Regions from separate parts of the Homo sapiens genome. Here region 2 is reported to be linked to region 1. The links are microRNA targets in miRTarBase. Many come from high-throughput screens and were not tested one by one. Region 1 holds a microRNA gene; the other region holds the end of a gene's coding sequence.
What was found. The annotated mature microRNA hsa-miR-371a-3p reads AAGUGCCGCCAUCUUUUGAGUGU and lies in region 1 at 4,304-4,326, shown strand. An mRNA with a match to its seed (bases 2 to 7 or 8) in the 3' UTR can be bound and repressed. Matches are read on the target gene's strand: a 7mer-m8 pairs with bases 2 to 8, a 7mer-A1 pairs with bases 2 to 7 and ends in A, and an 8mer does both.

Region 1 (7,122 bases):
CATTTAAGAGTAAAGATAAATTGACACTTAAAGTTCACTAATAGTTAATACAATTATTACAATTTGAGGCTTTACGTTAAATATGTGTGTTGAATTACCGCAATAATACAAGACCAGATCAACTATACTTGTCAGGTCAGAATGAAAATCTAAGAAGCGCATCTTGAATTTTAAATTTTTTTCAATTTGATTTTTCTTGTCAAGCCTGGTTGTGGGGGGGGAAGGTCAAGTCTTAAACTGGTCTCACCACCAATGTTATCAATTGTCAAAAAAAAAGTCAAATTGGGCCAGGCGTGGTGGCTTATGCCTGTAATCCCAGCACTTTGGGAGGCCAAGGTGAGAGGTTCGCTTGAGCCCAGGAGTTTGAGACCAGCCTAGGCAACAAAGCAAGACCAGCATCTCCCTCTCTCTCTCTCTCTTCTCTCTCTCTCTCTCTCTCTCATATATATATATATATATATGTATTTTTTTTCTTTCTTTCTTTTTCTTTTTTTGAGACGGAGTCTTGCCCTGTCACACAGGCTAAAGTGAATGGTGTGATCTCGGCTCACTGCAACCTCTGCCTCCCAGGTTCAAGCATTTCTCCCTGCCTCAGCCTCCCGAGTAGCTGGGATTACAGGCGCCCACCACCACACCGGGCTAATTTTTGTATTTTTTAGTAGAGACGGGGTTTTCTTATGTTGACCAGGCTGGTCTTGAACTCCTGACCTCAACTGATCCGCCTGCATCAGCCTCCCAAAGTGCTGGGATTACAGGAATGAGCCACTATGCCCAGCCCATCTCTATATTTTTAAACAAATTATACAACAAAAAAGTAAAATATCACATTGGATATTTTTTCTTTATTCTTTGTTTTTTTTTTTTTTTGAGACAGAGTTTTGCTCTTGTTGCCCAGGCTAGAGTGCAATGGCGCGATCTCGGCTCACCACAACCTCCGCCTCCCGGGTTCAAGCGATTCTCCTGCCTCAACCTCCTGAGTAGCATGCACCACCACCCCGGCTAATTTTGTATTTTTAGTAGAGACGGAGTTTCTCCATGTTGGCCAGGCTGGTCTTGAACTCCCGACCTCAGGTGATCCGCCCACCTCGGCCTCCCAAAGTGCTGAGATTACAGGTGTGAGCCACCGTGCCCAGCGGATCTTTTTTCTTTTCTTTTTTCTTTCTTTCCAGGGATGGGGTCTTGCTCTGTCACCTGGGCTGGAGTTCAGTGGCAGGATCAGGCCTCACTGCAGCCTTGAACTCATGGGCTGAAGAGATCCTCCCACCTCAGCTTTCCAAATTGCTGAGATTACAGGCTTGAGCCACTGCCTGCAGTCCTCTTTCAAATGCACTTAAAAATCGTCTTTGACTATACTCTTTGTTGAATGTTGATTAAATTCAATTGCACTAATAACATTTTTTATATTCAAAAATACAAACGTTGGCCGGGTGCGGTGGCTCACGCCTGTATTCCCAGCACTTTGGGAGGCCGAGGCGGGCAGATCACCTGAGTTTGAGAGTTTGAGAACAGCCTGACCAACATGGAGAAACCCCGTCTCTACTAAAAATACAAAATTAGCCGGCGTGGTGGCACATGCCTGTAATTTCAGCTATTCGGGAGGCTGAGGCAGGAGAATCACTTGAACCTGGGAGGCGAAGGTTGTGGTGAGCCGAGATCGAGCCACTGCACTCCAGCCCGGGTGGCTGAGGGAGACTCCGTCTCAAAAAAAAAAAAAAAAAGTCAGCAATGAACTCGCTGTGCTGGCCCAAGGGCAGGAGAAGAAAGCCGCCCTTAAAGGAGAAATTTGCAAAGACAAAATGAGGTGATGAGAAAAAGCCGAGTTCTAGGAAATACCCGAGAGATCATCCAGGTGGTTCACAAATAGCAGAAAATCCAGGTGCAGTGTGAGAGGAGTGAGTAGGTTAGATAGGAATCTGGATGGCTGAGCTGTAAGGACATAAGCACTGACCTCCCGCAACCTTGACAAAGATCAAAGCAAGAATTTTTTTTTTTTTGAGATGGAGTCTGGCTCTATCACCCAGGCTGGAGTGCAGTGGCGTGATGTGAGCTCACTGCAACCTCTGCCTCCTGGGTTCTAGCGATTCTCGCCAAACATGCTATTTGCTGTCTCATTTCTATCTCTCGCCATCCTTTGCAGCAAATGCTGTACATTTTCATTGATGAAGGAACTAGGTTTAACCAGAAAGGTTGAGCACGTACTCCCGCAGCTGGCTAGGATTACAAATGGGAAGGAAACCCTGGCCTCCTGGGGCCCCAAGTCTTCCCCTTCCTTGAGTCATTCATTATTTTGAGCACTTACCATTTTCAAGCCCCTCCTCACCTCTCCAACACCCACCTTTTTGAGTTCCTCTCTATGCCTCAAGGTCAAAGGAACTCTAGTGGTTTCATTAAATAAAATCAGAAATGTTTCCGCTTTTTTATCAAAGTTGCTCTCAAAAATGTTCACTGCCGCACTGTTTTTTTCTTTTCTCCCTCTCTTTTTTTTTTTGAGACTAAGTCTCACTCTGTCGCCCAGAATGGAGTGCAGTGGTGTGATCTCGGCTCACCGCAACCTCCACCTCCAGGGTTCAAAGGATTCTCCCACCTCAGCCCCCTGAGTAGCAGGGATTATAGGTGTGAGCCACACCGCACCCAGCTTTTTTATTTTTTTAAAATTTATTATTATTATTTTTGAGATGGAGTCTCACTCTGTCACCCAGGCTGGAGTGCAGTGGGGCGATCTTGGCTCACTGCAACCTCTGCCTCCTGGGTTCAAGCAATTCCCCTGCCTCAGCCTCCCGAGGAGCTGGGACTACAGGTATCCACCACCACGCCGAGCTAATTTTTGTATTTTTAGTAGAGACCATGTTGGCTAGGATGGTCTCGATCGCTTGACCTCGTGATCTGCCTGCCTCGGCCTCCTGAAGTTCTGGCATTATAGGCATGAGCCACTGTGCCCAGCCTATTTATTTATTTTTTGAGACACGGTCTCACTCTGTCCCCAGGCTGGAATGCAGTGGCACAATCTTGGCTCACTGCAACCTCTGCCTCCCGGGTTCAAGCAATTCTCTTGCCTCAGCCTCCCAAGCAGCTGAGATTACAGGTGCACACCACCATGCGTGGGTAATTTTTGTATTTTTTTGGTAGAGACGGGGTTTCGCCATGTTGCCCAGGCTAGTCTCGAACTCCCGGCCTCAAGTGATCGTCCGCCTCGGCCTCCCAAAGTGCTGGGATTACAGGTGTGAGCCACTGCGCTCTGCCAAAATACTATATTTAAATATTTGTTGAGTGGATGACTGGTGGAATGATTTTCTTCTGGTTATTTCTCTGTGTTTTCCAATGTATTTATAACGAATACATGTTGGCGTTACTAGTAATAGGGATCACCTAATTTCTATTTGAATCAGTGTTTGAAAAAGTTTATGAAGGTGTGTCTGACTAAGGCAAGCTAGGATCAAAGGGAGCAGGGTGGCTTGGGGCGGAGACCAGGGGGAATGAGAGGGTGGGAAGGGGTGGGCTTTAATCCTATCAAAGTTGAGTGGGCTCTCACCCTATATAAGAACGCAGCTGCAGTGAACCTTGTTCTTTCTGGCAGACCTGAGGTGTGGACGTATCATTGGCCTCTGTGAGTATTGCTATGTTATTTTATTTTCTTTCATTTTACTTTATTTTTTAGGGTCAGGATCTCACTGTCGCCCAGGATGAAGTGCACAGGTAGGATGATGGCGCCTTGCAGCCTCGACCTCCTGGGACTCACCCTTTTAGCCTCCAGTAGCTGGGACCACAGGCGCGCACCACCATTCCCATGTGCGTTTTTCTGCTTTTTTTTTTTTTTTTTTAGGAGAGATGGGGTTTTCTATGTTATCCAAGCTGGTCTCGAACTCCTGGGCTCAAGAGCAATCCTACCACCGTAGCCTTCCGAGTAGCTGGGACTACAGGCTTGAGCCACTCCGCCCAGCCGGGCTGTACTTTTGTTCTATTTCTGTGATTTTTTTTCAGTCTTAAGGACGAAGGCCCCACTGTCCCTCACACGTGTTCCTTCCTACTTGCATTGTACTCAGTCCTCATGGCTTGCATCTGGAGGCTATGGGCGGGGGAGTGCTTTGAATATCTATACGTGGAAAGCCTTGTTTTTTACTTTTTAAGAAAGGGTCGTTAAATTCGTGCTTTGTAGACCTTCAACAGCTCATCAAGGGCTACTCTCCACCTCCTTGCTTAAAAGCCTCTTCTGATGGGTAAGTGCTTCCACTTGCGATCGCCGCCTTGCCGCATCCCCTCAGCCTGTGGCACTCAAACTGTGGGGGCACTTTCTGCTCTCTGGTGAAAGTGCCGCCATCTTTTGAGTGTTACCGCTTGAGAAGACTCAACCTGCGGAGAAGATACCATTTTGATTGGGTGAGGGGGCGGGTAGCAGGATGGCCCTAGACCCTGCCTATGGCCGTTTCCTCGTGATATAAATTTCTTGGCCGGGGCTCTTGCAGATGGAGCTGCTCACCCTGTGGGCCTCAAATGTGGAGCACTATTCTGATGTCCAAGTGGAAAGTGCTGCGACATTTGAGCGTCACCGGTGACGCCCATATCAACGGATGCCGTGGAGCTCGGTCTTCTGCAGGAACTAAAGAGCCTGTGGTTTCGATTCCCAGCCGGAAACTGTCTTGGGTACAGGTCCCTTACAGCGTCTGGCTGTAATGGCTCCGGAAAACCTGGGGAAGGGAAGGGGGCCTCCTGGGCTCTCACCTGACACAACTAAGGGAATCTGGGTTAGATGGTGAAAGGAAGAGAAGGTTCAGAGGGCGGCTGTGCGCCTGCGCCGGGCGCGGCGGCTCACACCTGTAATCCCAGCACGTTGGGAGGCCGAGGCAGGCGGATCACGAGGTCAGGAGATCGAGACCATCCTGGCTAACACGGTGAAACCCCGTCTCTACTAAAAATACAAAAAATGAGCCGGGCGTGGTGGCGGGCGCCTGTAGTCCCAGCTACTTGGGAGGCTGAGGCAGGAGAATGGCGTGAACCCGGGAGGCGGAGTTTGCAGTGAGCCGAGATCGCGCCACCGCACTCCAGCCTGGGCGACAGAGCAAGACTCATTCTCAAAGAAAAAAAAAAAAAAAAACAGCAGCTGTGACCAAGGGGCTGTATGCACAAAGAAAGGAATGCTTTTTGCTGTTGGTGTTATAATTGATATGTAACTTTCCTCTTCCCCCATAGCAAGCAAGTTTATTGCTGACATTTAACATGTGCTTGGATGATTGGAGGCCAACCTCTTGTAGGCAAGAAAGTCACAGTGATGGCAGATCCTCGCGAGGAGCTCATACTGGGATACTCAAAATGGGGGCGCTTTCCTTTTTGTCTGTACTGGGAAGTGCTTCGATTTTGGGGTGTCCCTGTTTGAGTAGGGCATCACGAACCATCCTGCTTCAAGGGAGCCTGCGGGTCTGACTGCAGCTTCAGCTATGACCTGGAGTTCCCGGGCTTCTCTGCGGGGCACCAGTCTGTATGCTCCATTTTAGATAATAAAAATTGGCATATTCTGGGGTGGGCAGGATACGGGGTTCACCTGCAGATGAACAGGGCAGGAAAAGCTTGATGGGGTGTCGGGGGAATCTGGTTGGCCTTAAAGGGAATTTGGGGTCCTGTTCCTGAATTTGGTAGGCAGCATGCATGTAAGGCTTGAAGTGGGTTTGGCCAGAGCATGGGCTGGAGTGCTTCCACCCTGCTACACGGACAATGCCACAGTCTCACTTTTCCTAACTTTTTTTTTTAATAAAATGTGAACAACATCATGTGTTTCTGGTCTATTGGGTTCCTCTGCCACCCACAAGTGCTGGGATTACAGGCATGAGCCTCATGTCTGGCGTTACTGAACCTTCTTCTATGACCCAAGTACATTGCCTAAAAATACTTGTCAGTATTTTGTGCTTCCCTTCTACCCCTGCTAGAACTTAGAGTTATGCTCTTTGAGAGTTCTGCTCTTTAAACTTCAAACAAGTTTAAAAAGTAAGGCCGGGCACAGTGGCAGCACTGCCGAGGCCGACGCAGGCTGATCATGAGGTCAGATCAAGACCATCCTGGCTCACACGGTGAAACCACATCTCTACTAAAAAATACAAAAACATTAGCCGGGCATGGCGGTGGGTGCCTGTAGTCACAGGCTGAGGCAGAAAGGGCATGAACCCGGGAGGTGGAGCTTGCAGCCAGCCGAGGTTGTGCCACTGCACTCCAGCCTGGGTGACAGCGATAACTGTCTCAAAAAATAAAAACCACCCAGGCTGAAGTGTGGTGGCACCATCACAGCTCCCTGCAGGCCTGAGCTCCCTAGATCAAAAGATCTTCCCATATAAGCCCCCCCTCACCCCACCCTTAGTAGCTGGCACCACAGGAGTGTCCCCGCCATGCTCCACTAATGTTTAGTAGAAATTGGGGTCTCATACATTGGCCAGCTTGGTCTGAAACTTAGGGGGAATCAAACATCCCTCCTTTAGTAGAGATGGGGCTTTACTGTCTTGCCCTGGGTGGCCTCCCTGGGATGATGGGTGTGAGCCACAGTGCCAGGCCTAAGTTCATATTTGGAAGGTTTTTTTGCTTCAGATGGTCTCGTGCTCTCGCTCAGGTTGGAGCGCAATGGCGCAATCTTGGTTCACTGCAACCTCTGCCAGCTTAAGCGATTCTCCTGCCCCCGCCTCCCAAGTAGCTGGGATTACAGGCATAAGCCACCACGCCTGGCTAATTTTTTGCATTTTTTAGAGATGGGATTTCTCCACGTTGGCCAGGCTGCTCTGGAACTCCTGACCCCAGGTGATCCACCCACCTCGGCCTCCCAAAGTGCTGGGATTATAGGCGTGAGCCACCACGTGGGGCCTTCAGTAGGTTCTTAGTTGCTGTTTGCCCTATCACTGGTTTCCGGGTCTGCTGGCCACTATCCCCTGTAAGTTTTCCTATCCCCTGTAGGTGTTCCAAACCCTTGCGGCTGCTTTGCCCACTCCACAGTATCTGAACTGAAGTAAGATCTCAAATTCAAGGGAGTTTTGTTTTGCTATTTGTACCCGCAATTCATAAAGCAGTTGTAGCCTCTGTCCCAATACCGCCACCACTGGTGGGGAGTCCGCCACGGTAACCAGTAAGACTTCTCTTTATATTTGACCTACC
Region 2 (7,122 bases), not on the chromosome of region 1:
TATAAAGTGTTTTGGATCAGTAGTTTCTGTAAGCCACAGTCCCCTGGGAATTTTCCAAATTACTGAATTGCCAATGTAGGTGGTATACCTACATTTGGGTGTAGACAGAATTTTAAAAATTACCGACACAGGGCGTTCTCAGAAACATTAGGAACAACTGCACTCTGAACTTTAAAAATGCCTAGAAATCACTGAAGGCCTTTTGGTATAAGATTGTACCAAGCAATAGGACACAACATTAATTTGCATATATTCCATCAAAATAATGTGACAAGTAAATTGGAAGTTGTCTTAATTTGTAGAAAAACGTATGTATAATTTTGCATCCTGATACTCAATAGGGTCTCTTATCCTCACTCTGACATGTGTCACTCTTCTTTGCCAAGCCAACAGAGCAGCTTCTCCAGGGCATTCTTTTCCTAGCAGGAATAGCAGTTCCTGCTTTAAGACTTAAAGCAGGAACTGGATCTTTCTTGAATTGGCTCTTTAATACATAAGCCATTGCTTTTCATTGAGAAATTTATTTCCACTTCCTACAGTTGAGATATCTAATAGGAATAAACTAATACCAAGGACAAGACCAGCAAATTCACAGCCCTTGTCTATGGTAGACATTACAAAATAATCCCAGCATGCACTGCCCCTTGAGTCTGGTGAGGTCCTAGAAATCCTCAACACAAGATTGCAGACAATCTGCTACCAACTGGAAGAAAATTTTTTTTATTCTTGTTCTAGAACTTGCTCTAAGTCTCAGATGTTATCTTTTTGGACATTTGCCTCATTCTCAAAAGAGCAACATGTGACTTGGCTGAGGGCTTTTTTTTTTTTTTTTTTTGAGACAGGGTCTTGCTCTGTCACTCAGGCTGGAGTACAGTGGGGCAATCATGGCTCACTGCAGTCTCAACCTCCCAGGCACAAGTGATCCTTGCACCTCTGCCTCCCACTCCGAGTAGCTGGGACCACAGGTGTGTGCCACCACACCTGGCTAATTTTTTTTTTTTTATTTTTTGTAGAGACAGGGTTTTACCAAGTTGCTCAGGCTGCTCTGGAACTCCTGAGCAACCTCTGTCTAGGCCTCTCAAACTGCTGGGATTATAGGCGTGAGCCACCGTGCCCAGGACTACCTTTACACTGAATTAATTAGTAAATCAAAATAGCCTTCTCTCAAGTGGCTTTCTCACCTCCCAGGAAATCTTTCCCTTTAGAATCTGTAGAAGCCTCCAGGAGCTTGTTATGCCTCCATAAAAGGAGATAATCAGCAGCTACTTGAGAAATGTTGAAGATGATTCTTTCATGTCTCCTGGTACCTATTTAATCTTCTACAATCTGTTGATTAGAATAAAAATTAGAAAGGATTTTAAACTAGACAAATGCTACATATAAAAACTATATATAAAAAAATGCTATATATATCAGCTAAGAATTTGGGAAAAACAAAACAAGTCTCCCGTCTTAGACTACTATAACAAAAATACCATAAACGAGGTGCCTCAAACCACAGAAATTTCTCATAGTTCCAGAGACTAGGAAGTCCAAGATCAAGATGGTATCTGGTGAGGGCATCCTCATAGAAGGCACCTTCTGGCTGTGTCTTTACATGGTGGACAGAGCAAGGGAGCTCCCCGACCCTCTATTTTTATAAGGGCATTAATCCCTAAGGGTTCCTTCCACCATCATGACCCATTCACCTTCCTAAAGACACTACTTACGATGGTATTACATCATCTTGGGGGACAGGGTTTCAACATACAATTTTTGGTAGAACACATTCAGACCATAGTACCTCCCTTCCAATGGGGGGAAAAAATTAAAACTTACAGGAAATAGAAAACAAACCTATGATAGGATTAACAATGCCAATCTTCAAAAATACTAACAAAATTGATAAACCCCTAGGCAAAACTCATCTGTGGAGAAAAAAGACATGTCATGAATGAAAAAACCTTTACTACAGATCCTACAGATACCCAATCTTATTCAAGAACACATGAAAAGTCCAAAAGAAAACTAGTTCACTGAAGCCAATAACATTAAAAAGAAAAACATCAAGACCAAATTGGGTTTGGTTTATTTAGTTCAGGGAGGCTAGATTGCTTTAACATTCAAAGAACAATGTAACCGCCATATTAACAATAAAGAAAAATCAAAATCATCTCCAAAGATAGAAGAAAGACTTTTTATAAAATCTGAGTATCTGTTCAAGATGTTTGAGAGCTTCCTAGAAACCTAGGAATAGACAGAGGAACTTCCTTAATATTAGAAATTTATCTACAAAGAAACTATAAACCTTATATTTAATAGTAAAATGTTGAAAACTTTACCTATTATCAGCAATGAAACAAATATGCCCCCTACCATTGCTTTTATTCAACACTGTACTAGACTGGCAATCTTAGAAATGCAATATTGTAAGAACAAAAAAGCTGTAAGATTCTAAAAGAAAACTCATTCACAGATATTATGTAGATAGAAATAGATAAATTAGAATTAATTAAGTTTAGAAAGATTGTGAATACAAAGTCAAAACAGAAAACTTGTAGTTTATATATCAGCAAACAAGATGTAACTTAAAACACTTTTCCCAATGGCTTAAAAAAAAGTAACAGCTGGGCATACTGGCTCATGCCTATAATCCCAGGACTTTGGGAGGCTGAAGTGGGTGGATTATTGGAGGTCAAGAGTTAAAGACCAGCCTGGCCAACATGGTAAAACCCCGTCTCTACTAAAAATACAAAATTAGCTGGGCGTGGTGGCATGCACCTGGAATCCCAGCTACTGGAGGCTGAGGCAGACAATAGCTTGAACCCGGGAGGTGGAGGTTGCAGTGAGCCAAGATAGTGCCAATGCACTCCAGCCTGGGCAACAAGAGCAAAACTCCGTCTAAAAAAAAAAAAAAAAAGAAAGTATCCAATACTTGAGCAAGTCTAAAAATCAGTCCTCCCAAATTGATCTATAGATCTGACACAATTCCAATAAAATCCCAACAGGCTTTTTTGTTGTTGGTAGCTTTTTGTGGAATAAATTGATTCTAAAATGTATATGGAAATGCAAAGTCCAATAATAGACCGAAGAAAAAAAGTGGGACCATGTACTAATACTATAGCAAACATTGATACTATAATTAACACAGTCTGGTATTAGCATAAATAGAACCTATATAAAATTAGTAAGAATACACAGGCAGAAATAGACATACACATATATTGGCACAATTTATGACAAAGACCCCCAGTAGAATGCCTGAAACCATGGACAGTACTCAACCTGATTGCCCTCAATAGGAATATGTTTCTGTGCATGTCTTCTGCCCACAAATTTAATGCCTTTTCCATCTTAACTGAGCACTTATCACCCCACTGTGGCTACTCTGAATGGTGGGCAATTTAAAACTTATGAATTCCTTACTTCTAGAAATTTCCATGCAATATTTTTGGTAACAAACTGTGGGAAGCGAAATTGCAGATAAGGGGGGATGTACAAGGTGATCTAGGCTCATCTTGTACATTCATTGCCCTATCCCTAGAATGAGCCATTTCTCCAAAGAGCCCCAGGTCCTTTTGTGGAAGAAGGTATTAGTAAGCAAGATCTGGCTGGGTGCCGTGGCTCACACCTATAATCCAGCACTTTGGGAGGCTGAAGTGGGAGGATCACTTCAGCTCAGGAGCTCAAGGGCCTCAGGAGCTTAAGGACTGGCTGGGCACCATGGTGACACTCTGTCTCTACTAAAAAAAGAATACAAAAATTAAGCAGACGTGGTGACACACACCTGTAGTCCCAGCTACTTAGGGAGCTCAGGCGGGAAGATCACTTGAACCTGGGAGGTCGAGGCTGCAGTGAGCCGTGTTTGTACCACTGCACTTCAGCCCAGGGCGGGGGAAAAAAAGAAAGAAACCAACCAAGATCTGGGTGGTAGGTGTGCTCATTGCCATTAGGGTATCATTGCTTTGAGACCATCTCAGTGCACTTGCTTCTTGTATGTGTTATACTTAAAAACAAAACAAACAAACAAACAAAAAACACCCAACCAAGACAACAGTATCAATAGCAAATCATGCTAAATATTTAAAATAGAAATAGTTCTTGAAATACAACATATCTAAGACATACTGAAGTGAGGCAAGATGCAAAATAACTGCATATGTATTTAGTTATTCTAAAGTAATAAGCACTAAACTCAAAGCAGGATTAAGGGAAGCCTCTTCTTTTTTTTTTTTTTTTTTTTTTTTTTTTTTGAGACGGAGTCTCGCTCTGTCGCCCAGGCCGGACTGCGGACTGCAGTGGCGCAATCTCGGCTCACTGCAAGCTCGCCTCCCGGGTTCACGCCATTCTCCTGCCTCAGCCTCCCGAGTAGCTGGGACTACAGGCGCCCGCCACCGCGCCCGGCTAATTTTTTGTATTTTTAGTAGAGACGGGGTTTCACCTTGTTAGCCAGGATGGTCTCGATCTCCTGACCTCATGATCCACCCGCCTCGGCCTCCCAAAGTGCTGGGATTACAGGCGTGAGCCACCGCGCCCGGCCGGGAAGCCTCTTCTTTTGGCAATCTCTATTTCTGTATTATCTGAATTTTATTTAACATATACTATTTTCATAATAAAATAATTAAAATCAGATTTAGTTGTATAAAATAAAGAATTTTAATTGATTCATAACAAAAGCATTAAGCAAACAAAATGTTAATTAAAAATTTTAAATAAAATATTTAAAAGAAATAAGTGCAGAAAATAGCATTAAAATGTTTGCATAATTACATACATTTTAATACTTCCACATTCTTTTGGGGACCCAGGCTTTTAAATTTTGGAAACATGTTAACTTACAGGCAAATAAAATGAATGCAGATGAATAGTTTCTACATATAATTACAATCTGGAAAACGACTTGCCTAGAGTCTTATTGCCAGTTAGCAGTTGAATGATTTTTCAGAATCAAAACAATTTGAACAATGTTTTGCTTTTTAAAGTATCCAAGAATTACACTAGAAAAATGTGTGAACATTTAAGTGTATTTACACAGTTCCATGGTCTCTCATCCACCAGCCTATGTATATTTACTAACCTTGGTTCTATTACCATACATTTTGTAAAGACTTTTGCCAGGTATCTCAGAACAAGTAAGGTGCATTTTAAACAAGCAAAAAATTAGAAAATGAAAACATCTAATCCAACTAGGCATTTTGTTAATGACATCAATTGTCAGTAACAGGTTCCCAAAGTAGTACTACCAATATTTCCATACAACAAAAATTAACTAAGTAATAGTGCAATTACTAAGTATAATTTTAATTAAATCTGATGACAGGTAAACATTTATTTTCAAAAAGATTGAACACTAAGCTATCAAATTCTGCTCTACAGAAATGCATATGGGATAATCTTATTCCTTACCATCTTGTTACAAATAAATTCTAAACATTTTCTAAAGATATTCAAACTGAGTTACTACAGACGAGTGCCTATCAAGTGAAGACTCTGTATAGAGAAGTCAGGAATTAGGCTGGGCACGGTGGCTCATGACTGTAATCCCAGCGTTTTGGGAGGATCGCTTGAGCCCAAAAGTTTCAGACCAGCCTGGGCAACACAGTGAGACCCATGCCTCTATTAAAAAAAAAAAAAAATTCAGGAATTCCCTTTACAAATTGGGCACAGAAATTACTTGCCCAAGTTTAAATTTGCCTGTTTGCTTCTGATGTGGCATTAGATAATCCTGGTCTAAGAGTGGGCTTTATAAAAGACCAGGTCACATTTCTAGAGAAAAATCACTTTGTATTTAATACTCTTACAAAGAGTCAGGTAATTTTCCAGTTATAGCTACAAAGTTTCATAATTAAACATTCAGAGTGCTAATCAGGGAATCACCCAAAGATTTTTCCTTTGAATCCCCAGATAATTTTCAACAAATTTATTCCTGACTTTTCAACTCATAAGGAACAAAACTGTGATATGTGTGTGTGCGTGTGTGTGTGTGTGTGTATGAGTGTGAGTCTCGGTATTTTTTATTTTGATATTAAATAGTTTGTATTTTATAATAAGGAGCTCTTTGAACTTATCCAGATAGTAACTCCTTTATAACTGAAATCAGCTTTAACTATTAAAATTATATACGAGGAAATTAGGGGTGTTGCAGTACTTGGTTGCAAATAACTTGCCATCTGGTGTTGGGTCAGAAAATGCTATTTCATCAGTGCTGAGAAAACAGCCAAACATGAAGCAATTCCTAAAAGAGAAGAAAAGATGATTTAATGATGGAAGCAACTTAACATTCTAATTAACATGAGCACAATTTAAGTAAATACTCTTGACTTAAATCAACCTTATTTTTAGTAAGTGAAAAAATGCCTTATATTTTAGAGACAGAAGTCTAATGATATCATTTCACAGATGGGAAAACTAAGGTCCAGAAAAAATTCTGATGAGAGGCAAAGGGAACCATCCACCTAACTCTAGGATATCCATGGTAAAGAGCAACTAATATAAGATCATATTGCTAGGCCAGGCGCAGTGGCACACGCCTGTAATCCCAGCACTTTGGGAGGCCAAGGCGGACGGATCACGAGGTCGAGACTATCCTAACACGGTGAAACCCTGTCTCTACTAAAAATACAAAAATTAGCCGGGCATGGTGGTGCATGCCTGTAGTCCCAGCTACTTGGGAAGCTGAGGCAGGAGAATCACTTAAACCCAGGAGGCGGAGGTTGCAGTGAGCCGATATCTCGCCACTGCACTCCAGCCTGGGTAACAGAGTGAGACTCCAACTCAATCAAAAAATAAAAATAAAAAAAAGATCATATTGTTAATTAAAAGCCAAAGATAATTAGAACCAAAAAAAATCAATCTTAAGCAGTAACTATATATATATATATATAATATATATATATATATATATATATATTTTTTTTTTTTTTTTTTTTTTTTGAGACAGAGTCTCACTTTGTCGCCCAGGCTGGAGTGCAGTGGCACGATCTCTGCTCACTACAAACCTCCGCCTCCCGGGTTCAAGCGATTCTCCTGCCTCAGCCTCCCGAGTAGCTGGGATTACAGGCATGCACCACCACACCCGGCTAATTTGGTATTTATTTATTTTTTTTTAGTAGAGACAGGGTTTCTCCATGTTGGCCAGGATTG

Region 2: the mRNA of ESCO2 is a reported target of hsa-miR-371a-3p. The part of its 3' UTR that is shown has no 7-base or 8-base seed match.

The regions. Positions count from the first base shown.
Region 1 is chr19:53,783,413-53,790,534 of GRCh38, forward strand. It overlaps MIR371A (microRNA 371a), which reads left to right and starts at 4,263; the gene lies at 4,263-4,329. It overlaps MIR371B (microRNA 371b), which reads right to left and starts at 4,330; the gene lies at 4,265-4,330. It overlaps MIR372 (microRNA 372), which reads left to right and starts at 4,478; the gene lies at 4,478-4,544. MIR373 (microRNA 373) reads left to right here and starts at 5,293; the gene lies at 5,293-5,361. It also overlaps LOC124904767.
Region 2 is chr8:27,802,398-27,809,519 of GRCh38, reverse strand. ESCO2 (establishment of sister chromatid cohesion N-acetyltransferase 2) reads right to left here. Exons shown (of 11, transcript NM_001017420.3): 11 at 4,204-6,214. The coding sequence ends at 6,082. Among named protein-coding and RNA genes, the nearest start is that of ESCO2, 31 kb to the right of the region's middle.